Linked DNA regions of Homo sapiens. The protein of the gene in region 4 interacts with the protein of the main gene of each other region in a pairwise test. Each region holds a gene or a part of one and is shown on either strand. Other genes may lie near its edges.

Region 1 (2,166 bases), on a different chromosome or scaffold from region 4:
GGCATGCACCTGTAATCCAGCTACTTGGGAGGCTGAGGCACGAAAATCGCTTGAACCCAGGAGGTTGAGGTTGCAGTGAGCTGAGATTGCACCACTGCATTCTAGTCTGGGCAACAGAGCAAGATTCTGTCTCAAAAAAATAAATAAATAAAAATCATAAAAAATTAAAAATATTCTATGGAAAGTCAGAAGGTTTTTGATTTGCGTAAACCATTACGTTCTATAAATGCAGGATAAAAATGACACATCAGAAGTAACACTTGTTTCAAAAGCAGAAAAAAGTTCCTCTTTTTGAGGATAAGGGTGCTTCCTCTATTTAATACTGGAAAAAATTTCTATTTTACTCTAATGTTGAAAGTTTCTTCTGTTCTCAACTTTGCCAGCTTATGTTCTGGCAAAAATATTAGATGTTAGATTTCTTAAAATTCAGAACTTGCAGCTCCACTTAAAATACATACTTAAACGCTACTCAGAAAATGTGTAGTGTGATTAAACAAATATTTAAAATTAGACACAAAAAATTTATGCAAAATTCAAACTGTATATAATTCACATTTATGCTTCTAAACAAATAGAAGCTCACATCTGTACTACTTTTACAATTTACAAAGTGCTTTTATATACATTTTCTCATTTGCTATTCATGACAGACACGTGAGACAAATATTCTTATTTTACAGATGGAAATAGACCCAGACATTATTCAGTACTTTAACCACTAATAGTGGAACCCTGAGACTTTAGATCTGCAAAGGGGTTTAATAATGCAAATATCACATATATTTCCATTTTTAACACCATATTTAAGTTTTCCATTTTCTTAATAGAAAATGATAAAAAATGTTTTCCCCAATATAATAATACAAATGGAAAATATTATAGACAGTCATATACTAACCCAATGACCAAGATTCACCAGAAGCAAAACCTATTTGGAGGGGTCCTATATTGTTACATATATACAGGGCACCAGCACCAGAACCACATTTAGACTAATACTTTTTATTTCTAATTAAAAGAAAACAATGCAGGGCACTCCTGCAGCCTGCAAGTCTAACTGTACATACGTATGTGTCAGACTATGCAGGTGGCCAAGAAGAATGCAAAGAGATATTTTATCCAAATTTGGAGTTTAGGGCCTGATTGTCCTAGCTTAAGCCCATAGGAACCTGACAACTCGTTCATACCTCTCATCTTTAGTCATAGTTTCTCCTTCTCCATCCCCTTTTCTCCGTAACTACCCTGTGCCATTTAGACTGGAAATTCTAACAGGTAGCTTTTTCTTTCTGAATTATCTTTACTACTGTATAATTTTTATTTTCAGAATATTCCTTATTTCTACATCTCGAAGACATTTCTTTATAGTAGATGGGGGAGCTAGAGCTTACATTCACTGCCAGAAAAGGGTCAGTTCCAGTGTTAATTTCCCAGCAAACACCTGAGAGAAAAACTGAACAGAAAAAGAATAGTGATAGGTGGCAGAGCAGTGACACCTGTGCCCAGAAAGCCGCACTGCAATTGTCTAATATTTGAGGCTCTCCTTTGTTATAACTCTGCCAATTTAAACTAGAAAATTCTGGCTGCTTGAAAATTCAAAGCAGATCAATACATTTAAATCACCGGTTCAAAAAATCACTCTTTTTCATGTTATAATGTTTTTATTGCAATTGAGGATGTTTTCAATAAGTATCTTGAGCTTGAGGCCCTGGCTAAGTATTCCTTTTGTACTAGAAATCAGATTTCTCTGGCACAATTCCATTGCCTGCAATGGTCTTTATCAAAACTACAAAAGCCAGCACACTATTTCAATATGTATTCAGTTGTTCATATCTAAATACCTCATTAGCTATGAAACAAACCAAATATAAATGCTGAATATACAGTACATAGCAACAGATTCTTCACAGAAGAAAACAATGAAAGACTAATTTTCTACAATATGTTACCTGTTCATTAGTTCTTCAATAACATTACTTAGGCTATTTCAAGGATAACAAAATGTATGCGCCACTACCCATGTTTTCGCAACATTTTTTACCTAGGTTCTAAAGGGAATAAATGAGGATGCATATAGTCAGATTTATTTTTATAAACTTCTGATGTTTCTTTTGTTGTGCATCTTACATGAATATATGGAGACAAGAACAGATGTACACTTAAGTCATT
Region 2 (3,500 bases), on a different chromosome or scaffold from region 4:
TTTATAATGAATCTTACAAAAATACAGCCTGTTTTAATAAAAAACAAACAAAAACAGCAAGGTTGAATTATAACACTGTCTCTGATTATCTGCATTCCTAAAATTGAGATGACAGAAGCTACCATGGGACTAAAGTCTTTGAGTAAAATGCACCTTATTTATTTTTCCTCCTTTCTCTACCAGTATTGGCAAAAGAGTGAAATCATTTCTTTGCCCAGTGCTTATCAAAAATAGGAGATTTTCTCTTTCCTTTAAGATGAGTATTTACATACTAGGCTGAACATACTAGGCTGAACCAGAGAACTGAGGCAATTAGGCAGTTTGGGGTAAAAATAACTTAGATTTTAAAATCTTAAAATAACCATCATAAAAATACCATTTGGATAATTGCTTCAATTGCTCCAACATCCAAGTGGCTGTCAGATGAATCAATTCAATTCAAAAGAAATTTATTGAGCATGTACTAGGTGCCTTGCACTGCCCTGATTCAGGTAGTGGGAAGGGTAGTGGAGCTGCCTAAGAGATAGGGAAGCTTCTTCAAAATTAACGAAAGAGGGCTAGGCATGGTGGCTCACACCTGTAATCCCAGCACTTTGGAAGGCTGAGGCGGGTGGATGATTAGAGGTCAGGAGTTTGAGACTAGCCTGGCCAACATGGTGAAACCCCGTCTCTACTAAAAATATAAAATTTAGCTGGGTGTGGTGGTGCTCACCTGTAATTCCAGCTACTCAGGAGGCTGAGGCAGGAGAATCACTTGAACCCAGAAGGCGGAGGTTGCAGTGAGCTGAGATCACACCATTGCACTCCAGCCTGGGCGACAAAGTGAGACTCCATCACAAAACAAACAAACAAAAACCGGAGAGCTTTGCATTTAGCTATCATATTTAAAAGTGGCTGCTAGTGGCATTGAGTGTGGGGGCATGTGGCTAAAGGAAATGTCCTGGGGTCGCAAGGATGGAGAAGAAATAACAAATAAAACATGAAGGTAGAGAGGCAAGGATGAAGATGAACAAAAGTGGTGGAAAACAGACACACATAAGGATAAATGAAACCAGGAGGCTAATAAAAAGGGAGGAAGAAAAGTAGTGGAAATCCACATGCACTTTCTCCTAAACTGAAGCAGAGGCTACAGACGTGGACTTTTCTCTTCAGCTAACACTGAGTTCTAAGTGAGGTTACATTCGAGAATTACCATCTCTCCTTGCATCCGCTATCACCTTAGCTGCAGACTTGCTCATCACATGCACAATGTAGAGAGGACAGTTCACAGCGCTGGCTATGGTGATGGCTCTCAGCGTGGCCTCTGCCTCCACTGCCTCTGGGCGGCACAGCTCGTGGCCCTCAGGGCCTGTTATCCCCAGAGCCAACATCTTCTTTGCTCCCTAAAAAGACAGCAGGAATGTGTATATGTGCAAGGAAGGTTTACTAATGACAGATATCATTATTTTATCATAAATTAAATGCAATGCCAGGCTTTTGATCTGTTAGGTATAGGGGTGTGTGTGTGTCTGTGTGTGTGTGTATATGAACATATTTGTGTAAATATATCTATAACACATATATATATAACATGTATATTTGGTAAAAATAATTTTGATATTCTAATCATATAAGTTAATTTTCCATATGCATATTTTACCATCACTTTTTTTTATTGAAAAGGGGAAAAAGCAAGCACAAGCAACCAAAGCAAAAATGGACAAATGGGATGACATCAAGTTAAAAAGCTTCTGCATAGCAGAGGAAACAATCAACAAAGTGAAGAAACAACCCACAAAATGGGAAAAAATATTTGCAAACTACCCATCTGACAGGGGATTAAGAAGCAGAATATATACAAAACTAAAACAACTCTACAGGAAAAAAAGTTAATAATCTGATTTAAAAATGGGCAAAAGATTTGAATAGAGATTTCTTCAAAGAAGACATACAAATGGCAAACAGGCATATGAAAAGGTGCTCAACATCACTGATCATCAGAGAAATGCACATCAAAACTACACTGAGATATCATCTCACCCCAGTTAAAATGGCTTATATTAAAAAGACAGGCAATAACAATTGCTGGTAAGGATGTGGAGAAAAGGGAACCTATGTACGCTGTTGGTGGGAAGGTAAATTAATAAAACTGCTCTGGAGAATAGTTTGGAAGTTCTTCAAAAGACTAAAAACAGAGCTACCATATGATCCAGCAACCCCACTGCTGGACATATATGCAAAAGAAAGGAAAATCAGTATATCAAAGAGATATACCTGCATTCCCATATTTGTTGCTGCACTGTTCACTACAGCCAAGATCTGGAAGCAACCTAAGTGCCCATCAGCAGATGAATAGATAAAGAAAATGTGTTACATATACACAAGGGAGTACTATTCTGCCATAAAAAAGAATGAGATCCAGTCATTTGCAACAACATGGATGGAACTGGAGGTCATTATGCTAAATGAAATAAGCCAGACACAGAAAGACAAACATTGCATGTTCTCACTTATTTGTGGGATCTAAAAATTAAAACAATTAAACTCATGGAGATACAGAATAGAAGGATGGTTACTAGAGGCTGGGAAGGTTAGTGGGGAGGGATGGCGGTGGGGAGAGGGGGGAAGGTAGGGATGGTTTGTGTGTAAAACAAAAAAAAAGAAAGAATGAATAAGATCTAGTACTTGATAGCACAACAGGGGCACTATAGTCAATAATTGCACCTTTTGGCCGGGCGCGGTGGCTCACGCCTGTAATCCGAGCACTTTGGGAGGCTGAGGTGGGCAGATCACAAGGTCAGGAGATCGAGACCATCCTGGCTAACACGGGGAAACCCTGTCTCTACTAAAAATACAAACAATTAGCCGGGCGTGGTGGCGGGCACCTGTAGTCCCAGCTACTCGGGAGGCTGAGGCAGGAGAATGGTGTGAACCCGGGAGGTGGAGCTGGCAGTGAGCTGAGATCGCACCACTGCACTCCAGCCTAGGCAACAGAGCGGGACTCCATCTCAAAAAATAATAATAATAACAACAAATAAAAAATAATTGCACCATTTAAAATAACTAAAATAATATAATTGGATTGTTTGTAACACAAAGGGTAAATGCTTGAGGGGATGGATACCCAATTTTCCATGATGTGATTCTTATGCATTGCAAGCTTGTATCAAAATATCTCATGCACCTCATAAATATATACACTACTATGTACCCCACAAAAATAAAAAAATTTAAAAAGAAAAGGTGAAAAAGATATGAAGTTATTTCTAATCACATTCTTTGAAAAGCAATATCTATATTTAAGACAATATTGATTCAGACAAACAAAATAAAAATACTGTGGATCCTTGTTGAAGTGACTCACTGTCATACTATGTAATCAGTTTTACTTTTATTACGGAATAATCCTCTTCACTTGCTCCCCAATCCAACCCACTAAATGGTATTGGACCTGTTATCTTTCTTCTTCAAAATGTTATTTCTTCCTTACAAAAAGAGCATGCAGTCCAGACTTAGAGTGG
Region 3 (3,500 bases), on a different chromosome or scaffold from region 4:
ACAGTGCAAGACCCTGTCTCAATTGAGGAAAAAAAAAAAAAAAAAGGCCGGGCACGGTGGCTCACGCCTGTAATCCCAGCACTTTGGGAGGCAGAGGCGGGCGGATCACGAGGTCAGGAGATTCAGACCATCCTGGCTAACACAGTGAAACCCCATCTCTACTAGAAATATAAAAAATTCGCCAGGCGTGGTGGCGGGTGGCTGTAGTACCAGCTACTCGGGAGGCTGGCGCAGGAAAATGGCGTGAACCCAGGAGGCGGAGCTTGCAGTGAGCCGAGATCGCACCACTGCACTCCAGCCCGGGTGACAGAGCGAGACTCCGTCTCAAAAAAAAAAAAAAAAAAAAAGAGGCCTCATTTTTTTTTCTCTTTTGTGATATTCTGTGCTTTCCATGATTTCTGCATTGAGCAGTGAGTACTTTTGTAATTAGCTAAAAAAAAAAAAAACCCACCTATTTTTTAAAAGCCCACATATACTAACATTTTGCTGGCTCTGGGGGCCAGCAACAGTGGGGAGGAGGCTCAGTTCAGGGTTAAAAGTTACCTCTCTGCTTCCTGGGATAAGGACTCCACTTTGCGTGAGAGAAGCTGTTCACTCTGCATCAGCTGGTACACCCCAACATCTACGTCATTGACTGGAGAGACCTTGGCACGTGGCCCTCGGGCAAACTTCACAATCTGAGGGACAGGGAGAAATTACTACTGCTGCTACCACAAAGGCTGAGAAATTCCCAACCAGGAGCGCTGGTGGTGGGCATGTGAGAACAGCAGGCCCCCCTTATCCATGGGGGATATGTTCCAGTGAATGGAATCCCCTGTGGAGGTCTGAACCCTCAGAGAATACTGAACCCTATACATATAGCTATGTAAACATTTTTCCTTCTTCACAATTTTTCCTATAGAAGATTCATTCTTACTGTAGATCCTAGCAAACTCAGCAAATGATATTTGGTCTTCCTTATTTGGTCCAGAACTTTTACCTTTTCACTTAAAGGAAGCACTTGACCGCTTCTCTTTGGTAAATCTGGACTGCCAGCACCACTGCTCTTGTGCTTTGGGGCCATTATTAAGTATAATAGGCCAGGCACGGTGGTTTACACCTGTAATCCTAGCACTTTGGGAGGCCGAGGCAGGCAGATCACTTGAGGTCAGGAGTTCAAGACAGCCTGGCTAACTGGTGAAACCCCTTCTCTACTAAAAATACAAAAATTAGCCAGGGGCCGTGGCGCATGCCTGTAATTCCAGCTACTTGGGAGGCTGAGGCAGAAGAATCGCTTGAACCCGGGAGGCGGAGGCTGCAGTGAGCTCAGATTGCGCCATTGCTGGGCGACAGAGCAAGACTCCATCTCAAAAAAAAAAAAAAAAAGTACAATAAGGGTGGCTTGAACACAACCACTGCAATGCTGTGACAGTCAATCTGATCACTGAGACGACTCCTAAGTGACTCAGGCGGGGAGATGCTGGACAAAGCAGGGATGCGCATACAGGCGGGATACTACGAGGTCCCATCACACTACTCAGAACAGTGCACAACTGAAATCTATGGAACTGTTAATGTTTGGAATTTTCCACTTATTATTTTTGGACCGTGGTTGACGGCAGGTTACTGAAACTCTGGAAACCAAAATCTGAGATAAGGGCTCACTACTCTATGTACTTAATCAATCACTGCTGAGTCAGTGAATGAACAGATGAGCCTCCATACCTTCTCCCCGTTCTGCTCGAGGACTGTGACCCTCTTCTCCTTCTGCAGCTGCAGCAACACCAAGTAGAAGGTCCTCTCATCTGGGCAGGAGTTAGCACAGAGGGTGCTGAGCTCTGACAGGGCCACCACGGGGTGGGAGGAGAGGGGCGAGTTCTGATACAGACGATACACCTCCTCAGCCTTTTCCTGTGGGAAAGGCAACATTGGCTGACAGGCCCTGGCCACTGCCATGGGATGCAGGGACCCTGACCCTGAGTTTCAAAACCATGATCACACAAGGCAAGCACCCGGGAATCCCAACCCCATCCTCCCCAAAGTAGCGGCTTTTCAAAAAGGAGGAAGGATCTGTGTTTTTAAGCCTTGGAGGAAAGTTTGGTGACTCCACATGAAATGAGGCACATGAGATGCTGGGAGCCAGCTCTGCGCTGCACGCCCATCGGGGATTTTACACTCCTGCCTCTCACTGGCCTGTGGTTTCCCAAGGGAAGACTGAGGAGGTGAGGTGAGGTAGAACAGCTGTGAACGAGAGCTGAGGCCTGATTTCCAGCCTAGCCTGGGTGACCTTGGGCCAGTCACAGCCTCACTAGTCCTCAGTATCACTCTCTGAAGAGGGTGGATGAAATGACATCTAATTCCCTTCCAATTGTAGTCTCTCCATTTTCCTGCCAATTGGCTATACTGCAAACACAAACATTATTGACTCTGTAAAAAGCCTTAAGGGAAAAGGGCCAGGCGTGGCAGCTCATGCCTGTAATCCCAGCACTCTGGGAGGCTGATCACCTGAGGTCAGGATCACCTGAGGTCAGGAGTTCGAGACCAGCCTGGCCAACATGGCAAAACCCTGTCTTTACTAAAAATACAAAAAAAAAAAATAGCTGGATGTGATGGCGGGCACCTGTAATCCCAGCTACTTGGGAGGTTGAGGCAGGAGAATCACTTGAACCTGGGAGGCGGAGGTTGCAGTGAGCCGAGATCGCGCCACTGCACTCCAGCCTGGGCGACAAGAGCAAAACTCTGTCTCAAACAGAACAAAACAAAACAAAAAACAAAGAAAAGTACATAATAAACAGATGGGATAAGATTAGTGACAAGAGTAAGAAATATAAGTTCCAAGAAATAATGTCACCATTTCGCTCATACATGGAAATTACTACCAGAAACAAGAAAGACTGAGGTGTCCATGGGATGCTATGAAAATATAGGGAAGGACTGCCTGGGGATTCAGGATTTCTTGAAAAAAAAAAAAAGTTGAGCAGAATTCTGAAGAGTGAGCAAGTTCCTAGGTGAAGAGGTGAAACGGGTATCTCGGGAAGAGAGAGGAACATGAGCATAGAAGGGTGGGTCAATGCGGCACGTGTACAAATGTAGAGGGGAAAGGAGAGAGAGGAGAAGCACTCCTATATTATAGAAAGTGTAATATCCTATATTATAGAAAGTGTAATATCTTATGATGATCCTTTATTCTGTAGATGGTGGGTGGTCACTGAAGGAAACTGACATGGCTAGATTAACAGAAAGCTAACTGCCAATTGGGAGACGATGGATTGTAGAGTTAAGATTAGAGGCAAGGAGACCATTTACACAAGAGATTATGTGGGTCTGAACAACAGGCTATTTGAATAATAAACATAGAAAGAGGAGTGGTGGAGACAAACAAAATTCAGAAGATAACACTGGTAACTGGATATAGGGTTGGAAGAAAAAGTCTAGTGGAAAGTCACTATGGATTGAGTGACTGGTGGATGTGATGCTATTAATAGGAAAAAATTCAGGAGGAAAAGCCTAGTTTAAAGTAA
Region 4 (3,500 bases):
AATTAATGTCAGGGTGGTTTTCTTAAAAATCTCTGTCTTAAAACAAAACAGATAATGGAAAAACCCAAAGTAACCATCTCTCTTCACCTACTGGAGCATGTAGGAGGGGAGGAGAGGGGAAAAGATGCAGAAAAAATGCAAATGGCAGGACCCCGGGAAGGGGCCAGGTCCTCTGCAAACCCACCGGCACCAGGCACCATCTGCTTGGGGCTGTGCAGTTTACTCATCTTGGACTGGCCCTGATGCCGCCTGCTAAGCAGAGAGTGGCAGCAACTCCAGGGCAGTCACAGATAAATTTTTTTTTCCTTTCAGAATAGCTGGACACAATTTTCTGAGCTCAACAGAAGGCTGCCCCTGGGCACGAAAGCAGAAATGTGTTTGTGGGCCCAAGTCACTATATTTTAAATGGACTTGGGCTCTGTGGTGTGTGTGGGAGGAGTGGGTGCTTGTAGGACTGTACGGCTCAGTGGAGACACTGGGAATGCCACGATAAGAATGCTCTGAATCTCAAAACACAGCCTCCTCTCCCCCAAAAAAGAAAAGAGGTAATGACCTGGAGTTAGCCTCTTCCTTCCTAACTCATTAGGTACGTTGCATGTAATAGAGTGACTCATCCTTTCCTTGGGCAGAAGCATCACCTGGACATACTAGGTCCTGCTAGGGAAGGAGACATGAACACTAAGCTTCCAAGGACCACAGAAGGAGTCCTTAGTGTGGTTCCCCAGTGCATCCAGGCTGCCTCTGAGCCAGGCAGGTCCCATTTCCCAGTGTGCAGGCCCAAAGCCACCTTGAAAATGATGATTCCCATGCATGAAGAGGGGACCCTTTCCTCCTAACACTCCGGCTCTGTGTGATGTCTCTGTATGGTCTGTGAGTTGGACCCTGAGGACAGGGAGCTGTGGAAAGCTGGGGTAAGGGACGGGAGTGGGGATCTGCAGGGTCTGGCTGTTCTAGAGGCTGGGTTTGGGAGGTGAAACCTAGTGGCAGGAGTCAAGGTTGGTGTCCCTGGCTGGGCCTCGTGGCTTTTTCCTTTGTTGCCAATGGCTTGCTCTCAGTAGGCGGCAGCAGACTGCAGAGGTCTCTCATGTCAATGAGGCTTTCTTCCACAGCTTTTGCAAACTTGCTAGAAGAAGTCTCTTTGCAGCTGTGAAAGCTAGAGATGCAGAAAAGGATGGTCTCTGGCTGGGGGTTGTAGCAGGCACCATACCCATTTGGGACCACAGGACCATAGCAGCAGAACATCTCCGTGGTTGTGGGCACCTGGAGGAGAGGACAGGTCAGGAGCTGCTTGTTCTGGAATGCAGCCCGCCAGCCTCGACTGGGCTTGGCTTCTCTGTTTTCCACCTGGGGGTTTGACTGAATTAACCAAATCAAGTGATTGCTTTAGCATGGATGGACACAGCCAGAGTCATAAAAACAGACCCATCTAACTGCATGATATCAGAGGATGAGGGGCCCCAAGCCCACTCCCTGGTGTGCAATCTGCTCTACTTGTGGAGTTGGAAGCTCCCGGAGTGACCTGGTGCTAGGTCTTGGGCTGAGTCTCCACTTCACCTGGGGGCCATTTGAGGCACGGAGGCAATCAGGTAATTTACTAAATGGTCCCCTGGTGGCACCCCATAGTTAGATGCTTTCCGGAGGGAGGAATTTATGAACTGGAGGAAATCTGGCCCATCCTCTGTGTCGATTTCCCCCAGATCCTTAATTACTGTCAGTATTGCCTGGCTTCTCTGATTTCTCCCTGCAGCCTGGCCATGCACAATTACCCAGAGTTGGGTGTTTCAAAGATTGCCATCAGTTTTACTTATGCACCTAGTATGTTTTGAATCAGAGTGCTGAGATTTTGTAATCCAGATCACAAACCAAGAAAGTATGTTTCTGAAAGCATTCAAGCCATAAATGCTGCTTTCCAGTTGGAAAACAACAAAACTCCCACACCCCAGATTAATTTTATTAGCTGGTCCTTGGGAAAAAAAATAGAAAGGATTCTTGGGCAGGTGCAGGGCCTGGTTTGTTTTAAACCTACAGGTTTCTGGTGCTGTGTGCTGAGGCCTTTGGAAGTGACACTGGCTGTTTTAATGGGGCAGAACAAACCATTAGTCTTGCTAATAGAGTCACCACATTGTCAGATAAATTTGCCGTGCAATAGCCGAAGGCCATAAAGCCATTCCAAAGCACTTTTTGCCCATGGATGATTTCCTGAGAAATTTATGGTGCTGTGTTCTGTCCTCGTTTATTCACGTCTGCATGCTCACTGCCATAATGACAACATCCCATTACTGAGTGGGCTTCTGTCCTCAAACACAGCTTATCAACTCCAGTACTGCCCATCCAGCCTTTCGCAGATGAGGTGGCATTTTAGTAAATTGATGGCTGTGGGGCATTTCCCCTCCTAAACCACGACCTCTCTCTAATGGATTGCATTCTGTCTTTGTGGCAGTGGCTCTCATACAGGACACGCTGAGGCACTGGTTAGATGTTGGGCTGGCCACGAATGTTCTGCTGTTGGTTGCGTGGCCCTTTATAATAATATCTGTGACCTATTTAGAGGGCCCTGTCCATGCCAGGCCCTGGGCTGGGCTTTCTCCCTACATAATTGTATCTGGCCAAGCCAAGACTTCACTGCAGACCTGCTGGGCATCAGAGCCCGTGGAAACCGCGGCAATAGATTGAAAGGTAGTAAGGTGTAATGGTTAGGGCACCAGAATGGGTATGTTCCTGTACTGTCTCCACCTCGGCTAAGTAGGGTCTGCTGATTACTCCCATTTAGGAGATGGGAAACCTTCTTCTTCCTTTTTTCTTTTTTTGAGACAGGGTCTCACTCTGTCACCTGGGCTGGAATGCAGTGGTGCAATCAGGGCTCACTGCAATCTCCACCTCCCCAGCTCAAGCAATCCTCTTATTTCAGCCTCTTTAGTAGCTGGGACTTCAGGCACGCACCACCATGCCCAGCTAATTTTTAAAAATAGGGAGATGAGGTCTCCCCATGTTGCCCAGGCTGGTCTCAAACTCCTGGGCTGGAGCAATCCTCCTGCCTCAGCCTCCCAAGGTGTTGGGATTATAGTTGTAAGCCACCAAGCCTGGTCAGTAAACCATCTTCTAATGAACATTCAGATCATTTTGCTGAAGATCACATAGTTCAGAAAAAGCAGAGGCAGGATTTGCCTGATTCCAGCTAGTGGGCTTGTTGTCACTGCTCTTTAGAAAGCTTACTGACTACACTACTCTTGGGCGATAGCTGCACGGGGCCGTACCTGGCTAGTGGAGAGGACAAACCGGTTGCTCATCAGGTAGGTTTCATCCATGAACATCTCGGGCAGCTCCTTGCACATGGCCCGGGCCAGCTCCCGCAGTGCCAGCAGGTGGTTGTCAATGGCCATCCCTGTTATGGCCTGTGTAGTTGGGGACAAAGAACAGGAGATGAGAAGTGGGCCTCCTGCACCTCCTTGTTCCCTGCTCTGTAGTCTACAGGACTGCTGGTGACTCCAGCAGCCACGGCT

What was found. Proteins that work in one complex are often made in the same cells at the same time.
Region 1: the proteins of CHAT (region 4) and AGGF1 interact in binary tests that used the Homo sapiens proteins (3 or more experiments, as listed by UniProt).
Region 2: the proteins of CHAT (region 4) and DPYS interact in binary tests that used the Homo sapiens proteins (3 or more experiments, as listed by UniProt).
Region 3: the proteins of CHAT (region 4) and CHMP7 interact in binary tests that used the Homo sapiens proteins (3 or more experiments, as listed by UniProt).

Annotation. Positions count from the first base shown.
Region 1 is NC_000005.10:77,063,569-77,065,734, reverse strand, and holds the end of AGGF1 (angiogenic factor with G patch and FHA domains 1), read right to left. Parts: 3' UTR 501-2,166; downstream 1-500. UniProt on the Homo sapiens protein: Promotes angiogenesis and the proliferation of endothelial cells. Able to bind to endothelial cells and promote cell proliferation, suggesting that it may act in an autocrine fashion.
Region 2 is NC_000008.11:104,443,056-104,446,555, forward strand, and holds part of DPYS (dihydropyrimidinase), read right to left. Parts: intron 1,383-3,500; coding exon 1,193-1,382; intron 1-1,192. UniProt on the Homo sapiens protein: Catalyzes the second step of the reductive pyrimidine degradation, the reversible hydrolytic ring opening of dihydropyrimidines. Can catalyze the ring opening of 5,6-dihydrouracil to N-carbamyl-alanine and of 5,6-dihydrothymine to N-carbamyl-amino isobutyrate.
Region 3 is NC_000008.11:23,253,637-23,257,136, reverse strand, and holds part of CHMP7 (charged multivesicular body protein 7), read right to left. Parts: intron 1,891-3,500; coding exon 1,705-1,890; intron 678-1,704; coding exon 544-677; intron 1-543. UniProt on the Homo sapiens protein: ESCRT-III-like protein required to recruit the ESCRT-III complex to the nuclear envelope (NE) during late anaphase. Together with SPAST, the ESCRT-III complex promotes NE sealing and mitotic spindle disassembly during late anaphase.
Region 4 is NC_000010.11:49,662,537-49,666,036, reverse strand, and holds part of CHAT (choline O-acetyltransferase), read right to left. Parts: intron 3,393-3,500; coding exon 3,255-3,392; intron 1,261-3,254; coding exon 991-1,260; 3' UTR 1-990. UniProt on the Homo sapiens protein: Catalyzes the reversible synthesis of acetylcholine (ACh) from acetyl CoA and choline at cholinergic synapses.